Regions from separate parts of the Homo sapiens genome. Here region 2 is linked to region 1. A link means that fine-mapping ties the variant in region 1 to the plasma level of a protein whose gene starts in the linked region. Region 1 holds a variant in brackets. A gene starts in the other region. All regions are shown on their reverse strands.

Region 1 (15,466 bases):
GGCATGGTGGCTCACGCCTACAATCCCAGCACTTTGGGAGGCTGAGGTGGGCAGATCACGAGTTCAGGAGTTCGAGACCATAGTGGCCAACATGGTGAAAACCCGTCTGTACTAAAAATACAAAAATTAGCTGGGCATGGTGGTATGTGCCTGTAATCCCAGCTACTTGGGAGGGAGGCTGAGGCAGGAGAATAGCTTGAACCGGGACCCGGGAGGCAGAGGTTGCAGTGAACCAAGATCGCGCCACTGCACTCCAGCCTGGGCTACAGCGAGAGTCTGTCTCAAAATAATAATAATAATAATAATAAATTAAAAATTAAATTACATTTTAAAATGCTAACAGTCTTGCCTGCGCTTATAAACACTGAAACACAGAACTAAAAACTTTCAATATACAGCGAAGCATTTTGGACACAGCGCATGACAGCTCAGGTTCTGACAGTGGGCAAACAATCTGAGGGTCTTGCCCCAGAGGGCGGAGCAGGGGATATGAACACAGATGGCATTTTTATATTCTTGGTAGGACCTAAATACCATTCTCATATTAGTTTTCCTTATAAAAACTAAAACAATTTTCAATTAATTAGGAATTTTTCACGTGCGTTTCCCTTATTCTTCCAAAGCGTGAGGGTGTGTGAGACACAGCAATGGCCTATTTGGAACAATCCCTCTCTATCTCATTCTATTCCTGAAACAAGGCCTGTGGCTGTGACAGGAAAGCCTCCTTGTGCTTCCCAGCAAACTAGGCCAGCACATCCTGCTGGTCACTCCTCGACGCAGACAGGGCTGACAGACAACACAGGCTGCTGCAGCCACGATGGAGCTAACACCTGAAGTGAACTTTGGCTGAAGTGCGGTTTGGATGATCACATTTTCCTTTCTTCTAAATGCTATGAAATAATTCCAAAATCATCTTCGACTTCGTTTTATTCTAGTTTCACTCTCCTTCCGAACGAAACATAAATCATGACATCAAATTACTCAAAAGTAAAGCAGACCCCGCAGCCCCAGAGGCCATGTGTCCAATGCCATGGCAGCACCGCCTCCCTGACGCCCCAGGACCTCCTCCTCCCTGACGCCCCTGCACCTCCTCCCTGACTTCCCTGCACCTCCTCCCTGACGCCCCAGCACCTCCTCCCTGACGCCCCAGCACCTCCTCCCTGACTTCCCTGCACCTCCTCCCTGACGCCCCTGCACCTCCTCCCTGAGGCCCCTGCACCTCCTCCCTGAGGCCCCTGCACCTCCTCCCTGAGGCCCCAGCACCTCCTCCCTGACGCCCCTGCACCTCCTCCCTCACTTCCCTGCACCTCCTCCAACGCCCCTGCACCTCCTCCCTGACTTCCCTGCACCTCCTCCAACGCCCCTGCACCTCCTCCCTGAGGCCCCAGCACCTCCTCCCTGACGCCCCAGCACCTCCTCCCTGACGCCCCTGCACCTCCTCCCTGACGCCCCTGCACCTCCTCCCTGAGGCCCCTGCACCTCCTCCCTGACGTCCCAGCACCTCCTCCCTGAGGCCCCAGCACCTCCTCCCTGAGGCCCCTGCACCTCCTCCCTGACGTCCCAGCACCTCCTCCCTGAGGCCCCAGCACCTCCTCCCTGACGCCCCTGCACCTCCTCCCTGAGGCCCCTGCACCTCCTCCCTGAGGCCCCAGCACCTCCTCCCTGACGCCCCTGCACCTCCTCCCTGACGCCCCTGCACCTCCTCCCTGAGGCCCCAGCACCTCCTCCCTGAGGCCCCAGCACCTCCTCCCTGACGCCCCAGCACCTCCTCCCTGAGGCCCCAGCACCTCCTCCCTGACGTCCCAGCACCTCCTCCCTGAGGCCCCTGCACCTCCTCCCTGACGCCCCCGCACCTCCTCCCTGACGCCCCTGCACCTCCTCCCTGACGTCCCAGCACCTCCTCCCTGAGGCCCCTGCACCTCCTCCCTGACGTCCCAGCACCTCCTCCCTGAGGCTACTGCACCTCCTCCCTGACGCCCACTCCACTCTGCAGTCAGCTCTGCAGTCAGCTCAGTGTCCCACCCCTCACACCAGCTCTCAGGGATGCCCCACCATCCTCTTCAGGAGCCTGGAGCTGGAGACAGAATTGTGAGGCCTGCCTCTCACCTGCTCCTTCTGACCCTGCCTCCCTGTGGCCTCCAAACATGCCAGGTGCAGCCCTGCTGGGATGCTGCCTTCCCATCCCAGACGTTCTCAGGGAGGCCTCCCCACTCCTCTGCCTCCCTAGCTCCTGCCTTACTTTGTGGTCTGTCTCCCACTAGAAAGCCAGCTCCCAAGGGCAGGGGTTCTGCACTGCCGTTTCGTGCTACGTCCCAGAGCCTGGAACAGGCTGGTTCGACAGCACTCACGGGCCCGTTGCCCCATGTGTCCCCATCCATGGTCCTCACAGGTGCCAGCCGTGCTCTCCCTCGGCTGCAGCCACCTCCACCAGCCTGGCTCAAGCTCTAATGCAGTGAGATAGGAGAGCCCTGGCCGGCTCACGATGACTAGCTCACCGCCCTCTCAAGCAGACAGGCGCAGGAGCCCTCCCAGGCCCATCTGTCAGCTGCTGGGAAGGAGAACGGGGTGCCCCAGCTGCTGTGGGATTGGCCCAGGTGACAGCAAAGAGAGAAGGGGACGGTGTCTGGGAGAAGGCCCCAGCTTGGCGTGTCAGGTGGCTGGGCAACCACTAAGAAACATCTGGAGATGGGCTGTCCTTGGACGATCACTCTCTCACCCCTTCAGTCACTAAGCCAAGACACCGGCAACCACAGGCAGCCACAGTCCACAGCTGGCAGCCCCCAGGCTTCCCAGACAGAGCATCGGGCTCCTCCGAGGGCAGCAGGCCAGGCTAGAGGCTTCATTTTGCTTGGTGGGCATCTCCCACACCCTGACTCCTGAGCTGAGAGTGGGCACCTTCCAAGCCAAGGCCTCCCAGGAACCCCTAGAGCTGAGCTTGCCCCATTTCACGTTAGCCATGGTCCACAGGAACAAACCAACCCCTACCCTGACGACAGAATCGTGGACCCAGGTGGCTCCCTCCTGCCCATGTCATGGTACCCGGGGCCACTGCTGTTCCCAGCCTTGACCCTGCAGAGGGATCTGAGCACTTCACCTGTCCAAACCTACAAAAGACCCGTCTTAACTCTCCATGACAGGCTGTGTCCCTGACTCCCGAGGGAACACATCTCCAGCCCAAATCTCCTGCAGGCTGCCCTCAGTCACAGGCCCAGGAACACGCTCTGCCAGCCACATTGTGCAGAGCAAGTTTACCCTATGACAAGCCGAGACCAGCACAGCCAGTGACTGGCCAGGGCCCTGAGTGCTCTGAGTCTTTGTGGCACCGAGGAAATGGGTTGTAACATTTATAACAAGACCAGCAGTCACAACAAAGAATTCCTGGTTTTATTCAAAATGCGTGGAGTTACAGTCCTGTTCCCTGTGATTTCATACACGTGCCTGTCACTAGAAAATGAACCACTGCTGGCCGGGCGCGGTGGCTCACGTCTGTAATCCCAGCACTTTGGGAGGCCGAGGTGGGTGGATCACCTGAGGTCAGGAGTTCACGACCAGCCTGGCCAACATGGCAAAACCCCATCTCTAACACAAAAAATTGGCCAGGTGTGGCAGCGCGAGCCTGTGGTCTCAGCTACTCGGGAGGCTGAGGCAGGAGAATCGCTTGAACCTGGGAGACGCAAGTTGCAGTGAGCCGAGATCACACCACTGCACTCTAGCCTGGCCGACAGAGCGAGACTCCATCTCAAAAGAAAAAGGAGCCAGTGCTGAGAGGCCGTGGCTACTGACAGGCCGCCCACACTCCCCTCTAAGCTCGCATCTACTTCCCTCTGTTTTGCCAAACAGTCCCCATGAGATGCCCTGCCACACTGCACCCTGCCCCATTTTCCCTCCTCCAATCTTCCAAAATGGTTACATCGCCATCTTCAGTTACATCAATATTCAATTTAACTATTATGGCTATGTAAAATATGGCTTGTTACTGGACCAAGAAGTACAGGCTGTCTTATTCCACTTCTTGTTTTTCATGGAAGTGGTAACTGCCTCCTGGGGTCTTGTGCTTGGCCTCCATGCACCCATCTCAGCCCCAAACACTGAGGCCTCTCCGATGACAACCAGTTCTGGGGGTCCCCGGGCTCCCTCACCATCAACCTAGAAGCCTGCATCCAGTAATTCTTGACTTAAGAGTGAAGACGAAACACAGCTATACAAAACAAAAACGACACAGCTACCAGCTTCATGAGCGGCTTTTCTCCTCCCTGCGACTGAGACCAAGCTAACGTGAGTCTCCAGCTCGCACCTCCATGAACTCAGGGGACCAATGATTAGAAAAGAAGCATCCTCTCAGGCGTACCCATCACATGCATAAAAACCACCCAGCCGGCCCAGCAAGTACCAAAGCATCAGTGTCATAAAGATCGCATTCTCTATTACACACAAAATTCTGTTTGGAATTAATGGCAAGTTTTTTTTGTTTTGTTTGTTTTTGAGACAGGGTCTGTCACCAGGCTGGAGTGCATGGAGTGCAGTGGCACAAACACAGCTCACTGCAGCCTCCACCTCCTGGGATGCTCCCACCTCAACCTCCCAAGTAGCTGGGACTACAGGCATACGCCACAATGCTCAACTACTTTATTTTTTTGCACAGCCAAGGTCTCACTATGTTGCCCAGGCTGGTCTCACCCTCCTGGGATCAACTGATCCTCTCACCTCAGTCTCCCAAAGTGCTGGGATTACAGGTATGAGCCACTGTGCCTGGCCCATAATGGATTTTTCAAACTAAGAGGAAAAAATTTACACCTAGAATCTCCCCAGAGCTAACCGGTGAATCAGTTAGAGAACAAACTCATCCCGAGGGTCATGGGCACAGCTGCCATGTCCCAGGAGTAACCTGAGGAGAACCAGACTTTCCAGAAGGCCTGGAGGGAGGACCTGCAGCACGCCATGCAGCAAGCCTCAAGGCACAGTATGTGAGACGCCAAAATTCTCACAAAGCCGCTACTGAAAGCTTTGTACAGAAGGACAAACGTTAAATAAATGTATAAAGTACACACCTATCCTCTTAAGATGTTACTTAAGGGTTGCAGCTTATCAGTTAGACTGAGACACGGCCCCATCAGCCTCAACCTGCTGGTGCTCAGCCTGCAGACTCTGAGGCCTCCTGACTGTCCTCTTCCTCCCCCTTCTCCTGCCAATGCTGCCTCCTGAGGGTCTGTGGCCACCCACTCTGCCCATTGCTCTGCAGGCCCCCTTGACCCAGAGCTTGCCTGCACGCTCCTCTCAGCCTGCAGAGCCTGCAGTATCTCTCCATCCTCGTCCTGGGCCCCTCGCCCCACCTCAGGACTGCTTCCTCACCTGGGCCAGATGGTCTTTACCTGGTTGTCAGGGTGTCCTTTCTCCCCTCCACCCCTCCTCAGAGAGGGCTGCCTGCCTAGTTCCCATCTCACCCCCGGCCTGCTACGCTGACAGCAGCAGCACCTCACCCATTTGTCCTGCCGCAGCCCGCTGGCCTTGCTCTGGTGCTGGTTCACCACAGAGGCCCCGGGGCCAAGCCCAGCGCAGAGGCCGTGCTGGTCCCACAACATGTTCATGGGTGGAAGAACAGACAGTCAAATAAAGAGTAACAAATGGGGAACAGGCCGGGCGCAGTGGCTCATGTCTGTAACCCCAGCACTTTGGGAGGCCAAGGTGGGTGGATCACCTGAGGTCAGGAGTTCGAGACCAGCCTGGCCAAAACGGAGAAACCCTGTCTCTACTAAAAATACAAAATTAGCTGGGCGCAATGGCACATGCCTGTAATCCCAGGTACTCGGGAGGCTGAGGCAGGAGAATCGCTTGAACCCGAGAGGCGGAGGTTGCAGTGAGACGAAATCATGCCATTGCACTTCAGCTTGGGCAACAAGAGCAAAACTCTGTCTCAAAAAAAAAAAAAAAAAAAAAAAAACCGGGGAACAACACACAGCACGTTTCCCCAGAGCCATCTAAAGACTTGGCATCTGAGAAAACCCTTAGAGACACTGTCAGGCAATAATTCTGTGGAGGAGACAGACAAGACCTGAGGTCGAGGTCCAAGGGCATCCGTCTCCCTCACTGCACCTGCTGACTCTGAGGGCCCCAGCCAAGGTCTACTTATCCTGCACGTGCATGAAGGAGGGAAAGGACCCGCCACCGTCACCCCTACACCGCCTGGCCAAACATGAGGAAGTGAGATGGCCTGTTCAGAGCTTCAGAACTTGACGTAAGACGGACAGTGTATAGTATGGGGACTGGTGAGAGTGTGAAAAGGCACGGCCACTGTGAAGAACCGAGTTTACCCCAGCACATGACCCACTCCTAGATACAGGCCCCAAGGACTTGAAGACACGCATCCACACAAAGAGTTGTACACAAACGTGCCCATCACCAGGAGAATGAAGAAACGAAATACGGCACAAGCACGCAACGGATCGTGCTGGGAAAGGGATGGTGCTGGGGAAGACATTGTGCTGGGGAAGACATTGTGCTGAGGAAGGGATGGTGCTGGGGAAGGGATGGTGCTGGGGAAGGGATCGTGCTGGGGAAGGGACGGTGCTGGGGAAGGGATGGTGCTGGGGAAGGGACGGTGCTGGGGAAGGGATGGTGCGGTGCTGGGGAAGGGATGGTGCTGGGGAAGGGACTGGGGAAGGGACGGTGCCGGGGGACTGGGGAAGGGACGGTGCCGGGGAAGGGACGGTGCTGCGGAAGGGATGGTGCTGGGGAAGGGATGGTGCTGGGGAAGGGATCGTGCTGGGGAAGGGATCGTGCTGAGGAAAGAAGCCAAGTGAGAGCACGCGAACCCTCAAGACAGGTGAAACTGGCCAGGCACGGTGGTTCATGCCTGTAATCCCAGCACCTCAGCCTTGGGAGGCTGAGGCAGGCGGATCACCTGAGGTCAGGAGTTCAAGACCAGCCCCGCCAACATGGTGAAACCCCGTCTCTACTAAAAATACAAAAATTTTTATATGTTTTGTATTTTTAGTAGAGGTGAGCATGGTGGTGGGTGCCTATAATCCCAGCTCAGGCAGGAGAATCGCTTGAACCCGGAAGGTGGAGGTTGCAGTAAGCCGAGATCGGGCCATTGCACTCCAGCCTGGGTGACAAGAGTGAAACTCAGTCTCAAAGAAAAAAAAGAGAGATAGGCAAAACTAATCCATGGTGACAGAAATCAGCAATGGTGCCAGCAGGAGGGAAGGCACTGCCTGAGGGCGAGGGGTATGCGGCACCCACATGGGGACAGTGATGTGCGTGACAGGCTCCGCACTGCCAGGCACAGGACTCTGTCGGAGCTCACAGAGGAGCAGGTGTGAGCTGTACATTTCACTGCAGGTAAATTTTTACTCAAAGGAAGACTGGAAACAAACACTGAGCTCTAGGGAACGATGGTGGTACGGGCTGCAGTGTTCAGGGCGGTGTGCGCGGAAGCATGCTGATTACAAACACATCCCATTCAAGAGGGGCTGGGGGACAGACTGGAGATGGACAGAGACGTGGGGAGAGAGTGCGACGAAGTGCTGCCTGCAGAGCACGGGTGATGAACACCCACTTGGGTGGCCATGGAATCATTCTTTCAATATTTTGAAAATTCTCAAATTGTCATCATGAAATCTTTGAGGAAGGGGGCAGTTGCTTTCTAGCATTATGGAAAAGTAGTTAACGCAGCAAATTCTGGAAAACAGGGTATGTGAGGAGAAGGTAACAAGAAAGGAAAGAGACCACCTGGAAACCTGGGGTATGTTGGGGGCTTCAAGGAGAAGGAAAGATGTTAGAGTCAGCACGAGGAGCCTGGTGATGTGCAGGTGGCTGAGAGGGTGGCTGAGGAACGGGAGAGGAGGTGGGAGCTCATGGCGGGGATGACTGACCTCCGTTTCTGATGGCTGTGATCCCTTGGTAGAAGTCTTCAAAGCTGATCACGCCGAGCCCACTGGGATCCAAGTACTTAGTTAAGTCCTTCACCTGTAATTGCCAAATGAGACTAGGTTACCCTAAGCCTTTACAGCAGGGGTCCCCAACCCTGGACCTCGGACTGGGAGAGATCTGGTGTGTGGCCTGCTGGGAACGGGGAAGCACAGCAGGAGGTGAGGGAGCATTACCGCCTGAGCTCCCCTCCTGTCAGATCAGCAGGAGCATCAGGTTCTTCTCACAGGAGCGCAAAGCCTACTGTGTGCTCCGCATGCGAGGGGTCCAGGTTGCGCGCTCCTTATGAGACTCTAACGCCGGATGATCTGAACAGTATCATCCTGAAACCACCCCAACGCCCTGCCCGTCTGTGGAAAGGCGTCTTCTATGAAACCAATCCCTGGTGCCAAGAAGGCTGCGGGCCGCTTTAGGGAATCGGGATTAGGCTGTATCGCGAGCTTGGCTTTTTCACCACATGCAAAGAAGCCGCCAACAGGGGCGGTGCTGACAGTGACAGCCTCTGACTCCTCACGTGCAGGAGGCAGCACGGCCTCCATGGGCCACTGCAGACGGTCACAGCCACAGGACAGGCAGCACCCTGTAAATGGGCTGCCAGCAGCACCTGGCGTGATGAACCACAGGAGTAGGACCCTGGCCACTGAACGCCAGCAGCCAGGGTCTTACGTGGGGAGATCAGTTCTGAAGTTTTAGGTATTGTTCCGGCAAGGATCCAGCATGCCAACATAGATATGTTACATAGATAACATAGATAAGCACACACCGCCCATTCAGAAATGCCTTCCTGGCTCTGCAGAGTCCTTGGTAGCGAATAACTCAGGGAAAAAGACCCTTGATATCAAAAATCATAAACGCTAAGTAGGGTGACTCACACATGGACGTAACACAAAATGAAACTCTTCAGAAAGAATGCAGGTTTATTCTGCCAAGTGTAAATTGGATTTCATAAAAATTTAAAAATTTTCAGGGGATGGGGTGGGAG[G/C]GGGGAGAGTATTACAGAAAATACCTGGGCTTAATACTCAGCTGATGGGCTGACAGGTGCAGCAAATCACCATGGCACACGTTTGCCTATGTAACAAACCTGTACATCCTACACATGTACCCCAAAACTTAAAAATAAAAATTTAAAACTTTCATACTCAAAAGACATTAATAAAAGCAAAAAAATGACACTGACTGGGAGAAAGTATTTGCAAATCATATATCTGTTAAATGACTTGTGTCCAGAATATATAAGGAAATCTTATAATTAAGAAGACAACTCAGGCCAGGTGCGGTGGCTCACACCTGTAATCCCCAGCACTGTGAGAAACCGAGGTGAGTGGATCACCTGAGGCTGGGAGTTCCAGATCATCCTGACCAACGTGGAGAAACCCCATCTCTACTAAAAATACAAAATCAGCCAGGCGTGGTGGCGCATGCCTGTAATCCCAGCTACTCAGGAGGCTGAGACAGGTAAATTGCTTAAACCCGGAAGGCAGAAGTTGCCGTGAGCAGAGATTGCGCCATTGCACTCCAGCCTAGGTGATTGAATGAGACTCTGTCTCAAAAAAAAAAAAAAAAAAAAGACAACTCAATTTTTTTTTAAGTGGGCAAAAAACTTAAATAGAAATTTCATCAGAAAATATGTGTGAATGGTTGATAACCACATGAAAAAATGCTCAATTAGTCCTTAAAGAAATGCAAATTAAATTAAAACCACATTGCAGCCAGGTGCCTTGTGGCTCACGCCTGTATTCCCAGCACTTTGAGAGGCTGAGATGGGATCACCGAAGGTCAGGGGTTCCAGACCAGCCTGGCCAACATGGCAAAACCCCATCTCTACTAAAAATACAAAAATTAACCAGGTGTGGTGGCGCTCGCCTGTAATCCCAGCTACTCAGGAGGCTGAAGCTGGAGAATCGCTTGAACCCGGGAGGCGGAGGTTGCAGTGAGCCAAGATTGTGCCACTGCACTCCAGCCTGGGCTACAAAATGAGAATTTGTCTGCTAAAAAAAAAAAAAAAAAAAAAGTTTGAAGCTGGGTGTGGTGGTTCACGCCTATAATCCCAGCACTTTGGGAGGCTGAAGCAGGCGGATCACCTGAGGTCCGGAGTTCGAGACCAGCCTCACCAACGTGGAGAAACCCCATCTCTACTAAAAATACAAAATTAGCTGGGCGTGGTGGTGGGAACCTGTAACCCCAGCTACTCGGGAGGCTGAGGCGGGAGAATTGCTTGAATCCGGGAGGTGGAGGTTGTAGTGAGCTGAGATCGTGCCACTGCACTCCAGCCTGGGCAAAAACAGCGAAACTCTGTCTCAAAAAAAAAAAAAAAAAAAGTTTGAACACTGATAAATATTTGATGATATTAAGGAACTGTTCATTTTTGTAGGTGTGATGACATTTTCATAATTTTTTAAAGAGCACTGCTTTTTAGACACATGTACTGAAATACTTAGAAATACCTCTAGAATCTGGGGTGAGGCACAGATGTCACCAGAGGCATGCCTGCACGTTGCTGTGACTGGGGATGGGTACCAGTGCACCATTTCACTACTCTCCACTTTCATATGGGTTTGAACTCTTCCATAATGAAAACTTCAAGAACAGCAAAAGAGAAAAAGAGAGCAAAGAAGAAAGAAGTGTGGGCCAGGGAGAAAGGAAAAAGGAGGCAGCATTCAGCCACAGAGGGGGCAGACTCCTGAAGAAAGCCCCTCTTGGGTGGCGGGCTGGACTGTGAAAATGCTCAGGGACAGGGAGAGGCAACAGGCTGGCAGGAGCCCTGGCTGTAGCCACATCCATTAACTGACAAAACCCTAGGGCCTCAGGCAGGTTACGGCAGATGAGCATCGGTGAACCCGAGGAAGGCCCCCCAGGCCCTGTGGGCATCGGTGAACCCGAGGAAGGCCCCCCAGGCCCTGTGGGCATCGGTGAACCCGAGGAAGGCCCCCCAGGCCCTGTGGGCATCGGTGAACCCGAGGAAGGCCCCCCAGGCCCTGTGGGCATCGGTGAACCCGAGGAAGGCCCCCCAGGCCCTGTGGGCATCGGTGAACCCGAGGAAGGCCCCCTAGGCCCTGTGGTGAAGTCCAGATGCCGGGGCTGCTACCAAGCAGCAAGCACAGAACCCTCAAGGGCAGCCCTGCTGGAGATGCCAGGACACAGCTGCTCTGTTTCAGGAAAAGGATGGGGGGTGTAGCACGTGGTCAGCAAGGCTATAGCATCGCCCAGGAGGCAATCCAGAGAGCCCGAAGCACACAGGGCACCAGAGCAAGGCCCGGGCCCCCGTGGCTGGCCCTCTCGCCACTGTCAGCCAACATGCCTCATAAAGTCAGGCTCAAACAGGGCCAGCCCCAGCTAAGGGACCCCACAGTGTGGAATTCCTGAGCCAGAGACTGAGTTTCCGCTTCCCCTTCACAACGGAAGAGGCCGGGGCCATCGCCCCAATCCTAGGGCTCTGTGTGCTAGCGTGACTCTAGCCTCGGAAGTCCATCATCAACCAACTTCCTGGAGACAACTGGAGTTTATAAAACATCTCCCCACTTATCTCACAAAAGTCCTCATTCCTAAGCTCATTCCTAAGAATGTGAGAGTCTTGCTGGGTACCTGAGAGTTACCTAATCCGGAGTCCAGACTGGCCAATCTGTCCTGAAGATTCCTAAGAATTTCCACACTGAAGCTACTAATTGAACACAAAGTACCAAGTTGTTTATTCTGAAACATTAACCAAATATTTTTTAAACAAATCATTAACTAGAATAGGCCCCTTTTACATGTTACCATGTTAGAATGAACAAGAGTGAATCAAAGTATACATTTTTAAAACTCCATTTTAATTATATTTTCTTTATAATCTGTAGAACAGATGGATTTCATGTAATTGATGATTTGGGGATAGTTCTAATTCTCCAAGTCCAAAATACTCAATTCAGAGGCTTTCAAAAAAAAAAAAAAAGGTGAAACTGTGAAAAATGAGACAGCCTGCCCTTCCCTGCAAAATCCAGTAGTGGCAGAAAACCGAGCCAAGAGACATAAACCAGAGTGGCCAAAGCCAGCCAGCACCGCTCCAGCAGACGGACAATAAGTTACAGAAACACCATGGTGGAGAATCCACTCAGTCACTGGCTCCAGGGTGACTGCAGTATGAAAAACTTACTGACAAATTGCATTGTTCCTACTATGGATGTAGAAACATGATCCACTAATCTGAAAGAAAGGAAAGCAGAACAAGTTCTCCCACCACAGTCAACTAGGATCCCAGAGACTCCTCCCAGGATTCTCGAATAACACACTGTATTATGGCTTCACAGCAAAGCACCTTTCAGAACGAGAAACCGCCTTTCTGCATCTTGTTGTTACTATCATACTTGAATTATACTGTTTTCAACAAAGCTTATCTTATCAGAAACCACAGCAATAATAAGCAAAATGTTCCTAGGAGTTCCCGAAGCTATCTGTAAACTTCACACTAGATCAGCACATGGGCCAGCGTGGGCAGGGAGAGAGGCGGCTCTGGAAGCCTGGCTATACAGTATCTCCCAATGGCACTGAAGCCTGCGGCTCACCTGCCGATGGCACGGACACTTCTTTCTAAAAGCAGACGCGAAGCAGCTAAACATATACACAAAGGGCTTTCCCTGCTGTTCCCAACAAGTGCTCGTTTTGTTTTGATTTGTTGTTGTTTTTTTGTTGGTTTTTTTGTTTGTTGTTGAGATGGAGTCTCACTCCGTCGCCCAGGATGGAGTGCAGTGGTGCGGCCTCAGCTCACTACAACCTCCGCCTTCTGGTTTGGATGATTCTCCTGCCTCAGCCTCCCAAGTAGTTGCGATTACAGCTACCTTCCACCATGCCCAATCAATTTTTTAGTATTTTTAGTAGAGACAGGGTTTCACCATGTTGGGCAGGCTGGTCTTGAACTCCTGACCCCAAGTGATCTGCCCACCTCGGCCTCCCAAATTGCTGGGATTACAGGCATGAGCCACCGTGCCCAGCCTTGTTTTTCTTTTTCTTTTTCTTTTTTTTTTTTTGAGACAGGGTCTCACTCTGTCACTCAGGCTAGGGTGCAGTGGCACAATCTCAACTCACTGCAACCTCTGCCTCCCAGGTTCAAGCGATTCTCCCACCTCAGCCTCCCAAGTAGCTGTGTGTGCCGCCACACCCGGCTCATTTTTGTATTTTTGGTAGAGACAATGTTTTGCCATGTTGCCCAGGCTGGTCTCGAACTCCTGACTTCAAGTGATCCGCCCACCTTGGCCTCCCAAAGTGCTGGAATTACAGGTGTGAGCCACTCAGCCCACCTTACAGATGGGGTTTCACCATGTTGGCCAGGCTGGTCTTGAACTCCTGACCTCAGGTGATCCATCCGCCTTGGCCTCCCAAAGTGCTGGGGTTACAGGTGTGAGCGAGCCACCGTGCCCGGCCTTAATTCTTGATACTAATATCTGTTGTCCTGCACTTGAGTGGGAATCTTTCTGGTTGGTTCATTTTAACAGAGATAACTGAAGTACTCTTAGAAATGAAAGGATGTTCAATAAAATATTTGAGATGCACTTAGTATAAAGCCTGAACCAAACTAAGGCCAGGCATAATGGCTCACACCTGGCTTTCCAGCATTTTGAAATGCCAAGGCGGATGGATCACTTGAGCCCAAGAGTTCCAGACTAGCCTGGGCAACATGGTGAAACCTCATCTCTACAAAAAATTCCAAAAAATTCGTCGGTCCACGTGCCAGTAGTTCCAGCTACTTGGAAGGCTGAGGTGGGAGGATTGCCTGAGCCTGGGAGGTTGAGGCTGCAGCGAGCCATGATTGCGTCACTGCATTCCACGTGGGCGACAGAGTGAGACCCTATCTCCCAAAAAACAACAACAACAACAAAAACAGTGACAGGGAGCACCTGCTCCAGTCATATCCGATCACCCACCCAAGAATGGACTGACCACTGCTGAGTGCTTGTGAGAGTGTGCGCGGTTCTCAATTCTTTTTTTTTTTTTTTTGAGACAGAGTCGCCTCTGTTACCCAGGCTGGAGTGCAGTGGTGTGATCTCAGCTCACTGCAGCCTCCACCTCCCGGGTTCAAGCAATTCTCCTGCCTCAGCCTCCTTTGTAGATGGCATGACAGGCACGTGCCACCACGCCCGGCTGATTTTTGTAGTAGAGACGGGGTTTCGCCATGTTGGCCAGGCTGGTCTTGAACTCCTGACCTCAGGTGATCCGCCCACCTTGGCCTCCCAAAGTGCTGGGATTACCGGCGTGAGCCATGGCGCCTGGCTGCGCAGTTCTCAATTCTTTGATCTGAGTGGTGATTTTTACATATCACTGTATAGAGAACAGACAAGAAAGCTTATTCTTCAATCTGGTGCATGTGGCCAAGAAAAAAAAAAAAAAGAAAGAAAGCCTAGTTTTTTTGTTTTTTTTTTTGAGACGGAGTTTCGCTCTGTCACCCAGGCTGGAGTGCAGTAGTGCAATCTCGGCTCACTGCAACCTCCACCTCCCGGGTTCAAGCAATTCTCGTGCCTCAGCCTCCCAAGTAACTGGGATTACAGGCACGTACCACCACGCCTCGCTAACTTTTGAATTTTTAGTAGAGACGTCGTTTTGCCATGTTAGCCAAGCTGGTCTGGAACTCCTGACCTCAGGTGATCTGCCTACTGCCTCAGCCTTCCAAAGTACTGGGATTACAGGTGTGAGCCACTGCGCCCGGCCAAGAAAGCCTGTTCTTATACGCTTGAATGAGAAAGAGCCTGTATGTGACACTTTCTAAACCTGCAGGAAAGTTGGCTTCTGTTCCAAATCACATTAGCCTCAGGGACCTTGGACAAGGAGTTCCAGAGACAGGGGTGTTTTCATGGTTGGTTTTGTGGGTTTTTTTGGTTTTTGCTTTTGGGGTTTTTTGGTTTTGGTTTTGAGGAGGTATACAATATGAGATGAGGTCTACAACATGTTTCCCACGCTAGATGTGAACGACTAGACTCGGCCAATCCTCTTGCCTCAGCCTCCTGAGTAGCTGGGACTAGAGGTGAGTGTCACCAAACCCAGCTAATTTTTGTATTTTTTGTAGGGAGGCGATCTCGCTATGTTGCTCAGGCTGGTCTCAAACTCCTGGACTCCAGCAATCCTCCAACTGACCTCCAGAGTAGCTGGAACTACAGGGATGAGCCACTGTGCCTGGCTAGAGACAGTTTTTAATTCCCATTTAGTCAGCTTTGCACCAACTACTATAGCAAGCAACTTTATAGGGGGTTATGCTTGGCAGTTGATGCTTAACGACCCTGCTCAGAGTTGGCTCTAGATGAGGGGAGGCCTTTGCTTTTAACTGGGTGTGTGAGCAAGGAACAAAGACCCGCCTACTGGATGCTTCAACCACCTGGAATGATGAGGTCCTACTGGGAAAATGAAGGCATTTGAGTACATCTCATGTCTCTTTTCTTGGCAACTTAAAAGCTACGGTGTGTTTATCTCTAAATTGAAATTTGGAAGAAAGACAGGTAGGCTGAATAATATGAGTTTTCCTACTCTGAAATGTGCTCACTGGCAGCTCAGTTTTTCTGTTTGAAGTACAAAAATA
Region 2 (15,466 bases), not on the chromosome of region 1:
CTTTCAAAACTGTTACGAAGGATCAAATAAGGCTATGCATGTGACCATGCTTTGTAATCTACCAAAGATGACACCAATGGAAGACCTTTTATTAAATAAAGAAAAGTGAAATTAACTTTGCCATTATTTAATTCCAACACAGCTAAATTTATACATCGACATTATCCATGTAACTATGCATTCCTCTTTCCTTTTAAAATGCAGAATTATTTAAAAGATATTTATTGACTGATTTAGCAATTTGGAATTATTGGCTGTCCTAGGCATGCTTTTCATTACAAAATTCCTCATTAAAAAAAAACTCTCTTTTATTTACTCTGTATAAATCAACAAAACCAGGAAGTTAATTTTTGAAATATTGTGAAGATTGACATAATTTTTAGCTTTTATTGATTGGTTTCCAGGGTAAAGATATGAATCCTTCATTTGTTGAAATCCTAAAAACTAATTTAGTCTTAACCTTCTTTTATTCATTTCTTCAGAAAATATTTATTAAGTATCAACTCTATGTCAGGTCCTCTATCAGACACAAAGAAAAATAACATATGGTGTCTATCCTCAAGGACTTACGGTGGAGGCAAGAGACAAGTAACCAATCAGTACAATATAGTATGGTAAGTGACACGGCAGGGATATCCACAGGGAGTCAAAATTTAAGACTGGGAATTCAGGGGAAGTCCTCCAAGAAATGGTGGCACCTGACCCAAGGCATGAAAAGGTTAGGTCAGTTAAAAAGCAGACAAGAAAACAGGTTATTTATAGTAGAGAATAGAACATGGGGAACATGGGAGGGTGTTGCGAGAAAAGAGGAAACAAGATGCATTAGGAGAAGGCAAACCGTTCAGTTGATTGACATTACGGGAGATTGGAGATGGAAGAAATTTGATTAATCAGAAAATGAATCTAGAGAAGTTACCACGTACCATTTAATAAAGGACTTTAGGTGCAATGCAAAAGACTTCAGACATCTTACTAATACAAAAAAAGGGGAACTAACTCAAAAAATTTTCAGCAGAGGAAGAATACGATGAAATTGGTTTTAGAAAGACAACTGTGGTTATGACATATAGAATGTACTTAGAAGAAGGCGACTATGAGGGAGGAGAATGAAATAGGGACTTCAAACTCTGAATATGTTTCTTACACAGAAAACAATGTTGTAAAAAAATTTAAGTGGCTGGTCTCATGGCCGGTCATGGTGGCTCACGCCTGTAATCTCAGCACTTTGGGAGGCCGAGGCGGGCGGATCACAAGGTCAGGAGATCAAGACCATCCTCGCTAACACGGTGAAACCCCATCTCTACTAAAAATACAAAAAAATTAACTGGGCGTAGTGATGGGCACCTGTAGTCCCAGCTACTCGGGAGGCTGAGGCAGGAAAATAATGTGAACCCAGGAGGCGGAGCTTGCAGTGAGCTGAGATCACGCCACTGCACTCCAGCCTGGGCGACAGAGCGAGACTCCGTAAAAAAAAAAAAAAAAAAAAAAAAAAAATTAAGTGGCTGGCCTCAAAGCACGCTGCTAGTAACTGACTGAGCTAGGTTTCATGCAAAGCTCTGCATAACTCTTAACACCTATGCTCTGGAGAACCGGGCAAACCTGCCTCTCATAAAAGAAACTAAAGCAACCAGCCCTAAGCAAATTGAGTAGTAACAAGACAGTGCAGGAAAAGTGGTGACATGCTCAGGTCTACACCATCAAAATCAAGTACAGGAGTGAAAAATTATCTACTGAGTTAAGGACCATCTGGATAATCCTGGCAGAAGCAGATTTAGTGCCTGAGTCATTCAGATAATTGTGCAAACAATGTGCCCTGCTCTGGCTGAGTAACCTGGCCATTAATATCTTCCATAGTGCATTCTGCCCTGTGGCTCTTTTAAAATGGACAATAGTAGCTCAGAAAGAATTAAGGTACTATTCACTTCATGGGAGAGCTGCCTAAAGAATAATAGGATCTTAATAGACTGAGTGGATTTTATGTGTCCCCAGAGCCATTTCGCACTGGGATATACATATGATATACATAAGCCAGATTCTGCTTCAAAGGAGGAAAGAAGTTCAGCAATAGCACCGTCACATGTTGTTTTTATATTCAATTCTCCGTTAAGTGGTAGAAAGTTTTCTGAACCTGAAAGCTACAAAGAGACACTACTGCAAATAGATTTATAAACTACAGTAAAGCTATACATTTCTGTGTGTTAGAAAGCATTTTTTAAAATGCAAAGAACAAGATGCAGACAATTTTTGCAGTATACCTCAGATTTCCTATTACATGAAGAAAATATGAACACTCCAATAAAGAGTCAAATGAAATTCACAAATTAAAAAATACAAAGAACCTATAAATATAACATTTTTGAACTCATCCAAAATCATAGGAACAATAACTCAGAAGAATAACTAGATACACAATTTGTACTATCAAAATGATCCCAATTTTTAAAAATAATATCAAGTGTTAATGAGAGTATGGCCAAACTGGTACAACCACTGGTAGAGAATAAATCTGTGCTTACATTTTGGGGGAAGCAATTTGGCAGTAAGTGTTATGAGGCTAAAAATATTTACACTTTTGCCTGGGTAACTTCTAAGGTGTCATAAGGAAATGGTCAGAAATGCAAATATTAATGTATACAAAGGTTCATGTTCTTGACGATGCAAAACTGAAAACAATCTGAAGATCTATCATAGAATATTGACAGCCAAAAAACACATGGATAGTAAGAATATTAAATGAAATGAATAAATGTTTATGGTATATTAAGTTTAAAAAGCTAAATACAAAAGTGAATGTTCACTGTAAACTCAAATCTATAATTGAAAAATACCTATTTATATTAATAGAAATAAGACTAGAAGATTGAAATAGGATCTCTTTGTACTGCGGAATTTGGTGGATTTTTCTTTATTCCCAGTATTTCTTTAATGATTTTAGATGTCCTTATAATAATAAGATATTATTTTCAATTGAATATTAAATAGATAGACTTTTGAGTGTAACTTTACACAGTTGGTCATTCATATTATTGAAGTGAAATAATGCCCCATCCTCCTGCTGCTACATTTCCAAGGTCACACAACGGATCAGTCCTGTTGTCAGGAGTTGAACCTGAGTCTCCTGCTCCAAAATCAGTGCTTTTTAAGATACGAACTAAAGTACAGTGAAAGTTTCAAAGGAAAGTAGAAGCACTAATGAAAATTGAAAACACATTATACCAATAATACATGGCATCTTAGATTAAAGCAGATAGACTTATAAATTGGAAGTTTTGATAACTTGCCTACTGGACTCATCCAGGCATGGAGTGCCAGAAGAAACTAGTGCTGGAATAAGCAGAGAAAGATACAAATTAGAGTTGAAAATAAAAATGAATCAATTACTGACTATATGGTGAACACTTGGACTAGAGGAAAGAAAGTCTTAAAAAGTAACTAACCACAAGCCAGAAAGCCTGTAAAGTTGTAGTCTCCATTGATAAAAGCCAGTTTAGGAATGATGCCTATTGATGGGGAAAAAGCAAAACCAGTTTTCACCTTGTGCATTACAATTGCTACAATAGCACTTCTATTATTAATAGCTATTCTTTATGAGTAATTACCATGGGCCAAACCTTATTTTGAATGTTTAACACGCATTATCTCACTTAATATTTTACAAATCACAAAATCCTCTCACGTAAGTGCTATGATAATCCCCAGTTGACTTGCTGATGTTCGCTTAACTGCATCATGATACATAAATATTAACACCTGCAGGCTTCCTCCCAAAGCCTGTGCTCTTAGCCGATAGGGTAAGTGTAAAGGAAATGGCTAATGGGAGGGAGATTAGGAATGGAAATGCAGAAGGAGAACTTTATTTTCAATAAGATAAATTGTCATCAATTTGGGGGATTTGCTTGAAAGCTAGAAGTAGAAAGAGAAGATAAGAGGGAGACAAAGAAAGGAAAGTTAGAAAAATTAAGAAAAAAGTACGCTATCAGAGCATTGTGGTGTCAAGGAGCAAAATTTCAAGAAGATGGACAATATGGAAAATAGAAGGTCAGAAGAGAACAATCGATAATACATCAATAAAAAGAAAACAAACATTGGAATTGAGGAGGAGCTTACTGGTGAGTTAGAATAAGTTGTGGGATATGATAGAGACCATGGCCAATTTACATGTAGAAATAGATGGAAATTGGAGAATTTGTTGATTTTTTTTGAAATAAGGCAATTACAGGACATATTTTGTATACAGAAATATAAATTGTCTATTTCAGCTCTTCCTAGTTGGTCTCAAGGGACACAAGATACAAGAGAATACATAGAACCAGTACATAGTCATAATCCCTACTGTAGAACCGAGTCATTCTATGAAAAGATATAGAAACACCTTATGTCATCCATTACTCCTCATGGAGAGGATCATAAAGCCAGAGGAAGTTTCCTCCCAAGGCATAGCCTTCTACCAAAAAAATATCCCCAAATCATTGCTGCACCCATCCAGCTTCTTAGGATGATGCTTCCTGAACAAGAATCTTTAAGGCTACTTATTATAGGACTGTGTTCAATGTGGTGGGGTATACAAAAAGATTATAAGTGTAGTCTTTTTCTGCAAAGTACTTCCTAATTAGAAAACAAATCAGACATACAAATGAGGATTAAGCAACAAAATAAGACTAAGTATGATTAAGTTCCCAAGTGAAAATAGTCTACTAGAGATTCTGAAGAGGAGTGATCGTTTTGTTAGAACCATGAATTTTAAAATGCATTTAGTTGATACATACCTATGTATTGTTATTATTACCAGTAGCCCTGTTTATTAATGACCCACTATGCGCCCATCCCCATGATAGAAACATGCATGCTTTTTATGGCCCTCATAGCAACCTGAAATTTCAATGCTATAAAATTCCTTTTGAAGACAAGAAAACAGATTCTCAGAGTTTAATTATCTTGCTCCAAATCAGATCATCAGGAAGTTGCAGAGCAAAATTAAAAGCCAGCTCGCACTGCCTATGATGGTAACTTGGTAGATTAAATAATTTATCTTCAAAATGACTTGGCAAGTTAGAATTTTGTTCTTAAAACACAGAATTAAATTTTGTAGGGATACATGTCAGACTAGAACCGAATAAACTTGGTTTATATTGTTCCTGGTATCAACATTAACCACATTTTGTTGCCAGGACCAAAAATCCTGGGAAGCTAAAAAGTATTCTATTTGAGGGGAAACTGCTATGCAGTATAATTACACGGCAGGTTGTTGGAATATTAAAGTTTTCAGAAGACTTTCAACCAATCACTTGTGTCTTCTGAATCTTAGTTTCTTCATCTGTGAAAATGGAAAGGTTGTCATCAGGAATAAGTAATTTCAGGGAATGGCAAAGATAAATGCACATACATCAATCTATAAAAGAAAGTTCACATAGTACAAATAGATGTGATATGAAAAAGCAGTACAAATTTAAATATCAGGTCCACATGTAAAATCTGTACAAAGAAATACCTCACATCTACCCCCGCAAGGGTTCTAGCAGTTCCTTAGTCCTGGAAAGTGGGTGGATCCATTCCCAGATCCCCAAATGCTGTTAGCCATAAGTTACCACTGAAATAAATTTACTACCAAATAACCAAACCATTATGCCGAGTCTAATAAAATATCCCAGATACGGCATGTATTAATTTGATTTGCGTTACACTTCGGGCTGGTAAGGTTCATATGTACACTTAGAAACCGAAAAATGCGGCGAAATGGATGAAGATTATATTGGCACTCTAAGAATGTTTGCAAAATACTGAAATATTGAAAACATGAAATATGACATATTGAAAACATGAAATATGAAATATTGATCTTTACGTGAGTTACAAAAACATTATTTCACGCAGGGTTTCAGCAGTCTGAATGCTTCTTCTCCGGCTTTTCCCCCAATGGAGAATTGGATTCCCTTTTGCCCCGCCCACTCAGTGCTTCCAGATTGCTTGAGAAGGCCAAGGCAGCCGGCTCAGCAGCAGGGAAGCCGGGCTGGGTATGCAGGAGCTATATATAGCTCCACCTTGGAGATGTGCACACACAAGCACACGTACGAATACCCATGCCCGGTTTGGCATGAAAATAAATAAATAAATAAGGAAAGGTCGCAGCTATCCGCTTTCCCTCTTTCCCATCATCCCAATTTTTCAGGAATTTTCAAAGCAGGGTGTCATCAGTCCCAGAGGGTGATGCAGCGTCGGATCTCTCTGCAATTCTTCTGCCTACTGCTCCCAGCAATCTGACTCCTGCAGGAACCGGCACTGGGCCAACACCTACTACCCAGATGCGGTCACCTAGGGAGGCAGCCTCGCAGCCGCTCGGAGCCCATCCGGGCACAATCACTTGACTCCCTGGAAATCCCTGAAGCCAAATCCACCTTTCAGAAACTAGGTGTGAAGGTGGTTCCCGTAGACAGCGCCAGGCTAGGAGGGAAGGGGCCGTGGCTCCGCGGTCTCTCCCTCCCACCTGCCGCAGATCGTGGAGAAGGGCCGGTGCCTTCTCAACGGAGACGTAATTAATCGGAACGTGCCCTTCGAGTTGCAGGGATTCTTCCCCACCCCCATCTCCTGAAGGGAGCTAGATCTTAACAGAGGGGTCAGGGGACAAACAAGTCGCTTCCTCCCCTCTCCGCAACCGCTCCCAGGTTTTCCGGGATGCGCTAGCCAGGCGCCCAGGTGGGATGGGAAAGATGAGCAGGTGCGGGCCGGCGTCGGGAGAAAAAGACCTGCAGGCCCCGGGCTGCCGACCTCTCTGCTTCCCCACCCCTCCCCTGCCGAGGCGATATGGCATCCCTGGGGCGAGTTCCCGGCGCTGGCGGCGGCAGCCTCCGAAAGGAAAGTTGACGAGACACAGACCCCGAGCTCGGAGCCCTCTTCTAGGGCACTGCCGTCCTGCCTTGCCCGGCACCCCAGGGCTCCGGCATCCCGCACCCCTGCTTCCCCGCACCCCAGCCACCTCCGCCCCAGTCCTTCCCGCGCCGCACGGCGAGAGCTGCAGGGACCACAGGAGATTTGGGGGTGACGAGGGCTGGGCGGGGCTGGGGGAAGGGAAGCAACAGCATGGAAATGCGCATTCTTTATTTTATCTGCAAAGAAGGAAAAGTCCAGCTTCCTACCTGTTCCCTGCTCCTGCTCGCCTCGGTGCGGCACAGCTGGACCATACCCTACAGGTTTCCCACTTCCGCTGCAAACACCTGGGAGCGCATCTCCCCACCGGCGCCCCTCCTCGCCTCGGCGGAGCCCACCCTGGCTACTTGACAGCAGAAGCCCGGCCTTTTAGGGCGGTTATTGGGGCAGCAGGGAAAGTGGGGCGGGGACCACAGGGAAACCCGCTTCTCTGATTGGACAACAGGGATATCACTCTCACCCCCAGGACCAGCGCAGGCTGCAGACTTGGGTAGCTGCTAAACCCAACTGCAAAGGGTCTCTGCAGTGCCTGAAACCCAAACCTGCTGCTACCGGATCAAGGACCCTTGCTGGAGAGAAACTGGTTTGATGACTTGTCATTTGGGGCCCCAAGAGGGAGGGAGGGTCCAGGCATAACTAGACACCCAGCACTTTCCTGAAGCTTCCCTGAAGGGACCATCTGCTCCGGGAGATTTGTCAGGCGAAAATACCAAGCCAGCGCCTCATAGAGAAGAATGAGCTTCGATTAGGAAATAATAAGATACTTATGTGGGAAAAAATACACACACAGAAAGGAAAATAAAACGATGTGAGGTTTTTTTTTAAAGTTTCCATTTTTGTCCAGATGTAACATGGCAGTTTTTCTTGAGAAAAGACGGAATTGCTTAGTCTGTAATGCAGAAGACCCCCTAATATTCCCTGGTAGAAACAGTGTTTTAAACGGGAAAGCACTGCATAATAACCTCTCAAAAAAAAAAAAAGGGTAAAAGAAATTAAGGCCAAACTGCATGAGAGATTTGCTTTGGGGCAGTTCAGTTTGTGGCAAAAGTCTTAAAATAATCACCATTAGACTGATTGATAATTAAGTGATCTGTTACTTTTCTATTGATAGTAGTTTATCATTTCTTTAGTACTCAGACACTGAGAGGATGTTTATGCCCCCAAACCTAAGTGATCCCAAGCCTGCCTTTTATGTGAAGGGAACAGGGTAAAATAACTTTGTGTCCAGTTGCCATCTCTGCCATTTATTCAGGTGGAATCTGGAAATTTTGGAATTCAAGAGACTCCTTAAATGAAGGAACGTGCTAGAACTACCACGTGTAAAACTGGGAGTGTAGGGTGTCTTAGTATATAGTACCATGTGAGGAATCAAGTTGCCTTCTGCCTGCAAATAGCCACATTCTTCTTCTATCTGAATTAAGTAGCCATCTTAAGTGCTGAGCATAAGACACAACTCTCATTCTCACAGAGCTTCAAAGAGCTTATGACAGGCTTGGGACACTGGACAACTGTTAGAGAAGATGACATTGCTATTAATAAATATAGACTCTACTTAGTGGTTACGGTTGTTATTACTATCATCAGGTAAGGCTCTTCATAATGTTTTCTTCATAATACTGAAGGAATCCGATTAATGCATTTGAAGGTGGGGGCCGGGCGAGGTGGCTCATGCCTGTAATCCCAGCACTTTGGCAGGCGAGGCAGGCGGATCACAAGGTCAGGAGATCGAGACCATCCTGGCTAACACGGTGAAACCTCGTCTCTACTCAAAAAAAAAAAAAAAAAAAAAAATACAAAAAATACAAAAAATTAGCCGGGCATGGTGTTGGGCGCCTGCAGTCCCAGCTACTCAGAAAGCTGAGGCAGGAGAATGGCGTGAACCCAGGAGGCGGAGTTTGCAGTGAGCGGAGATTGCGCCACCGCACTCCAGCCTGGGCGACAGAGCGAGACTCCGCCTCAAAAAATAAAATAAAATAAAATAAAATAAAATAAAATAAAATAAAATAAAATAAAATAAAATAAAATAAAATAATAAAATAAAATAAAATAATGCATTTGAAGGTGGGAAGGGACCCTGGAGAAAATTTACAGTGAACAAATAGATATTATTTGTGTGGTGACAACCATCTTAACACTGAATGGAAATGACTAAATATGCCGTGGCAAAATTTCAGAACCCCTGTGTCATTTCTTACACAATACTCCTATTAGTCATGCACCTCTGTCCCAGGTACTCACACCAGTTATTCCATTGGATTGGCCAAATCATTCATGAATTACTGAGTACTTTTTCAATGCCATACCCTGTGTTAGGTGCTACAGAACTAAAGCAGAATAATGTATTGGACACATTAAAGATGATCTCAGGAAGCAATTACAATAGTAATATTTCTAAGGAATGTGTGTTTGCAACACGAACATCTTTTGATTCCTAAGCATAAATTATTTTGAGTCAAAATGAGCTTCAACATACTCTCCTCTAGAGGTAATCAGAGGAGAAGAAAAAGTATCAAAGAAAATACCTAAATATTGAAGACAACACAAGAATTGAAATTGGTAATGAAAAGAAAACTAAAGACATCTCTGCTATCTGCGTTCTTTCATTGCTTCACTCATTCATTCCTTCAACAAATATTACTATTATAAATGTGATGGTGAATAAAATAGGCAAGCTCTCATGGAACACATTCTTTATTCTTCAAGCAGACAATGTTACTTTGTGCATTTACTGTGATCTAATTAGCAGCTTTGTGTGTACATGCAAACACAACTCTGGAACAGTATTAAGATAATTTCTCTCTGGATCAGGCATCTCACACATTTTCAAGTAAAACAGAGCATTTTCAGGTTATTGCTTATTATCTCAAAGAGAAAAACCTGTACATATGTTCCCACAATACAAATGAATATGTCAAAGGTATCTGCTGCTGCAGAACATTTTAGATTTTCCAAATCACTTTCAGATACAATTTCCCTCTGTGTTCTAAAATAAGCAGGAGAGTCATCATTAGTCGCATTTCACCATGAGGAAATTGAGTAACCAAAGAGAAATGTGGTCCTTCAAAAACAAAGGCAGTAAACTATTATAGGTGGGTATATAATGCTTGGCATATTGCAGACATCTAATATGTATTTGCTGACAAATATATGGTTTTGAAAATATGAAAGTTTGAAGGATCTTAGAAAGTATTGAACTCCTTGTAATGCCAGCACTTTGGGAGGCCGAGGCAGGCAGATCATCGGAGGTTGGGAGTTCGAGACCAGCCTGACCAACATGAAGAAACCCAGTGTCTACTAAAAATACAAAATTAGCTGGGCATGCTGGCCCATGCCTGTAATCCTAGCTACTCAGGAGGCTGAGGCAGGAGAATCTCTTGAACCTGGGAGACGGAGGTGGTTGCGGTAAGCCGAGATGGCACCATTGCACTCCAGCCTGGGCAGCAATGGGAGCAAAACTCTGTCTCAAAAAAAAAAAAAAAAAGAAAAGAAAAAGAAAGAATTGTTGAATTCCACTCATTATTCTGTGAGGGAGGGACAGAATTTGCTTAAGGTCATGTGACTAGTTAGGGGAAAGCTGCAGCTAGACCCCAGGTCTTAAGACTTCATTCATTACTTTTTCTACCACATGAACAATAAGAGTTTTGGTATTTCTTTCAGCAGAGTTCCTTCTCTTTTTCCTCCCTGTATCATCCAGCCTTTTGATGTTTTCAGGACTGATCCAGCTGGTGTACTCATCTTCCAGCGTCTATAAAAATATGTGAAAGCATGCCACTTTAACTATAAATTCAGCTCAGATTCAACGTGCTTGTAAGTTTGAGGTCGGCTTCATGAGTATGGGATCAGAGTCATCAGGACTGGTGTCGAGGTATGAAGAAAGCTGTTGGAAAATGAATGGCCAGCTGGCACTTCTGTCCCTAAAATTAGGAAGAAGGGAATTATAGAAACAATAGTCTGAAGGCTTCCAATCTGGCAGTCTGGTATAGAACCTGTCTGCAGATCTTCAAAAGAAACAGTAGGACAATTTTGTCATGTGCCCTGGATGGCTCTGACTCCCTAGTCACTTACAGAGTTCCATAGTACAATTTACTGGGCATTGCTTTGCTAAACTGCCCTTGGCCTTATTGAATTCTCCTGTCTTCCCCTCCTTTTTCCACCCTGCACTGGCCCTCCTTCTTCAAACATTCCAATTTCCTCCAACTAGTGATTAAACCTCAGTGAAGGGAAAGGAAACTACAGCAACAGTGCAGCTTTCCACAGCATGTACTCCCTTTCTTTCTCCTCTGCTCCGCCCACCGTTTCCTCACTTCTCCAGGCTTCCCAGAACAATTTCTAACATACTCGATATGGCAAAAAAGCAGGAGAGTAAGGAAAACGGGCCTTTTCCAATTAATATTTTAAGCTGCAATTACCACAGCAGAAAGGTAACCAAGGTTCTGCCTGCTGGTTTAAAGAGAGTCATGCTAAACCCAGTCTGCAGCATCTCAGAGATCACGTCAGCTCACTGACCTAGCTTTTACATAGCCAACTGGGAATCCAGGCAATGGGATGGATGCACAGTGCACCAAGCTTGCATGCACACACACACACACACACACTATCAGTGCCACGTGGTGGGGAGACCAGGACGGGAAAGTTTTTGAATACTAAATACTGCATATATATTAAACGGCAGCAACTTGCTACTCATGCAGAGCCACTGTAATCTTTTTAGGGATTAAGAGTAATATTTGAATCTCTTAGCTTTAGCAGTAACTGCTATGCACCAAAAGAGCAAATTTACAGAAAAGGACACATGCTAATATTGCAAGGACATCTTCACATCTATTGTTTCACAATGGAGTCCTCTAATTTATCTTTCATGTTGCCCCATTTATATAATAGGAATCAATGTATAATGTAACAAAAGGATGTGTTACTCCTTAGTTCATAGCCACTGTGTCCTCAAATTCTTTCAACTCATACAACTCATGGGGAGTGGCCAATGCTCAATTCAGTTGTTTAAATTGTAGCTTTAGTCTCCTTATTCATGGAAAGTCAGCAGTCAGATATTATTAGTGAACTCCCACTCTCAACCTTAATTAATATGTCCTTTCCTTTCATTACCAACTCTCATTATAGACACTGAAAATCCTATTTTCTGAATAGCTCTTTGAAATAATGGATACCTTCACCCTCTGAAGTGGATGAAAGACTGGACGTTAGAAGACCTTTTATCTTAGTCTGTTTTGTGCTGCTATGACAGAATACCTGAGACTGGGTAATATATGAAGAACAGAAATTTATTTCCTACAATTCTGGAGGCTGGAAAGTCTAACATCAAAGGGCTGACATCTGGTGGGGGCCTTCTGCTGCATCATCCCATGGCAGAGGGAAAAAAGGAGGGTGAGGGAAGAAGGCTCAACTTACTCTTTTATAAATCACCCACTCCTGCCATAAGGGCACTAGTCCACACATTGAGGGCAGAGCCCTATGACCTAATCATGTCTTACAGGTCCCACCCCTCAACAGTGTTGCATTGGTATTAAATTTTCAACACATGAACTTTTAAACAACAACACCTTTGCTCAACTCTCCACTAATAACTAGCTAAGAGAATAGGGAAAGAATTGTAAACCTCAGTTTACTATGCCATAAAATGAGGAGCAAAGTTAAACAATACTCATATTCAAAACTATTTGCTAATGGTATAGTTTGAATATTTGTCCCCACCCAAATCTCATGTTGAAATGTAATCCCTCGTGTTGGAGGTGGAGACTGGTGGGAGGTGTTTGGATCATGGGAGCAGATCCCTCATGAGTGACTTGGGCCATCCCCTTAGTGATAAGTGAGCTTTCACACTGAGTTCACACAAGATCTGTTTGTTTAAAAGCATGTGGCACCTCCCCTCTACTCTCTCTCTCTTGCTCCTTCTTTTACCATGTGACATCCCTGCTCCCCCTCCGCCTTCTGCCATGATTGTAAACTGCCTGAGGCTTCTCTAGAAGCCGAGTAGCTGCCAGCTCCATGTTTCCTGTACAGTGTGCAGAACAGTGAACCAATTAAACCTCTTTTCTTTATAAATTACCCAGTTTCAAGCATTTCTTTAGAGCAATGCAAGAATGCCCTAATACAATAAAGCAGTTCTTTTATAAAAGGTCATCTACCCAAATATACATCCCACCCTCACACAATAATACAGAGGTGCAAAGGAGAAGGAACAGAGAAGAGAATTTGTCCATTTCATCCAAATATTCAAACTTATTTTGAATATTTTGAACAAAACTGTTCACAATATCCTTTATTATATTTAATGTCTATTGGATTTGTATTTATAATCTAAATTTTATTCCTGATTACTGATAAGTTGTCAGCTATTTTCTTGTCTGTTTTTCACAGTGTTCAGAAATTTTGTTCATCATTTCAAATATCAATTTGGCTTTGTTATTTTTCTCTAATGTATATTTGGTTTTAATTTTATTTATTTCAGCTCCTATCTCTATTATTTCCTTCCTCCTTTTCTACTTAGTTTGGATTTGGTATTCTTTTTCTTTTTCTTGGGATGGAAACATACATCATTGACTTTTCACCCTCTCTCTTTTTAAATATTTGCATTTAAGGCTATAATATTTTCTCTAAGTAGTGCTTTAGTATATCTGACACATTTTAATGTCTTTTTTAGCATGTTGTCCAAATGTTTTTTAATCTTTGTTTTTCTTTTGTGACTCAAAGATTATTTAAAAGTCCATTGTTTTATATATAGTCATTTAAGGTTTTTAGTTTATCTTTTTGTTTTAGAATTTTAAATTTCTTTTGTCAGAAAAATACTTTAAAAGGGTTGCAACCTATGGTGATTTGTTGAGACTTTGTTTATAAACCAAAACTTGCATTTTTTTTTTTTGTAAATGCCCCATGTGCTCTTAAAAAAAATGTACAGGCCCAGCTTTCAGTAATAGAGGAGTAACTACTGTTGACCATCTACCCTATAGATAAAAACTATAAACTCTGGGAAAAAGAGAAGAACACCTACTTGAGGGCACTGTAGAATAGTCCAAAGCAGGCAGAAACTGAAGAAGTGAATATTTGTGGGAAAAGGAAATGACAGAAAGTAGCTTCCTATTTCATCTAGTTTTTGGTCTTGAATGCAGAAACTGGCTGATTCCAAACAGGATGGCCAAGTCTCAAACAACAATAAAGGCACGATCTTTCTGTCTTGAAGAAATAGTGGACAGAACTCTAGATGACAACAGAAGAAAGAAGTAAGACAGGTGAATCTTAGAAAATAGACATCCAGAAAAAGAGAGTCCCCAGTTCAGAATATAAACTCTATCCAAATCTTAAACTGACCCTTAAACTCTGTAAACACAGGGCAAACTCCAAGCAGCCCAAATAAGGCTTTAAAAAATTGTAAATAGAAGTCTGTACCCTCTTCCCCTAATCCCTGGAATCTGTGAGTGTTACCTTATGTGACAGTCTATGTAGTGATTAAGTTAAGGCTCTCGAGATGGAGAGATTATCTTGGATTATCCAGCTGAGATCGCCCTAAATGCAACCACATGCATCCTTATAAGAAGGAGGCAATGGGAGATTTTACTACACAGAGCAGAAGGTAATGTGAAGATACCACAGAGAGAGATTTTGGGATGCTGCCCTTGAAGATAAGCAAGTGATGCAGCCATATGCCAAGCTGTCCCAGCAAACACCGAAAGCTAGAAGAAGCAAGCAAATGAGACTCCTGCAGAGCTTCTGAAGGGAATACAACCCTGCTAACGCTTAAATGTTAGCCCAGTGATACTGAGTTGGACTTGTGGGTCTCCAGAACTTGTGGGTCTCCAGAATCGTGAAAGAGTAAGTTTTTGTTATTTTAAGACATTTTGTTGTTTCAAATAATAGAGTAAATTTTTATTGTTTCATTGTGGTCACATTATGTTATAGTAACCTTAAGAAACCAGTACAAGAATTTAGCAGAGATTTCAGCAGCTGCTTGTCCAAGGGGAGACAGAGTTTGGAGTTGAGTGCAACCAAGTTAACTGTCTCCTAAAACAAACAAACCAAAACAATTAATACTCTTACAAAAAAAAAATACCACATACACACAACAGAATCCAGGACTCATCATCATAGTGTCCCAGATATACTTTAAAATTTCCTGCTTCACTCCTCTCCACTTCATCCCCTCTCCTCCAAAAAATAGGAAAATGTGATTCATATTCAAGAGAAAATTCAGATATTATAATCACAGGCAAGGTTTTAAAAACTGCTATTATAACCCTGTGTAAGGCCAAAAAGGAAAATATGTCCATAGTGAAGATTTTCCCCAGTAAATTTTCTGCACACAAATCTTAGCTTCTGCTTCCTGGGTAACCCAACATAATACAGTAAATTATATATGCTCATTATAGAAAGTGTGAAAAACTACAAGTCTTAATAGTTGGAATGAAATCCCCCCAAAGACTGACAAGTTATTGTTTGATGTTAGTTTACTAGGCTTTTGTAATTTTGCAAATTTCCTCTGAATTTTCATGGGTGTTCCAATTGAAGGCTGACTAGTTGCAGTAAATACCAGAAG

Which allele goes with the higher level. Alleles are on the strand shown, and positions count from the first base shown. The strength of an association depends on the size of the effect and on how common the allele is.
With allele C in place of G in region 1, the plasma level of the protein whose gene starts at base 7,284 in region 2 is lower (weak association).

The links. PIP is the posterior inclusion probability: the model's chance that the variant is causal. The UK Biobank Pharma Proteomics Project read protein levels with antibody pairs (Olink). The fine-mapping took linkage between variants from a reference panel, not from the people measured, so its PIPs are less certain.
Region 2: CNTN1 starts here. The variant in region 1 is fine-mapped to the plasma level of the CNTN1 protein (UK Biobank, PIP 0.99).

What each region holds. Positions count from the first base shown.
Region 1 is chr16:453,903-469,368 of GRCh38, reverse strand. RAB11FIP3 (RAB11 family interacting protein 3) reads right to left here. Exons shown (of 14, transcript NM_014700.4): 2 at 7,872-7,965. Among named protein-coding and RNA genes, the nearest start is that of RAB11FIP3, 36 kb to the right of the region's middle. RefSeq lists enhancers at 1,871-2,499, 2,500-3,129. The variant G/C (reference allele first, on the strand shown) is at 8,909.
Region 2 is chr12:40,684,257-40,699,722 of GRCh38, reverse strand. It overlaps CNTN1 (contactin 1), which reads right to left and starts at 7,284. Exons shown (of 24, transcript NM_001843.4): 1 at 7,131-7,284.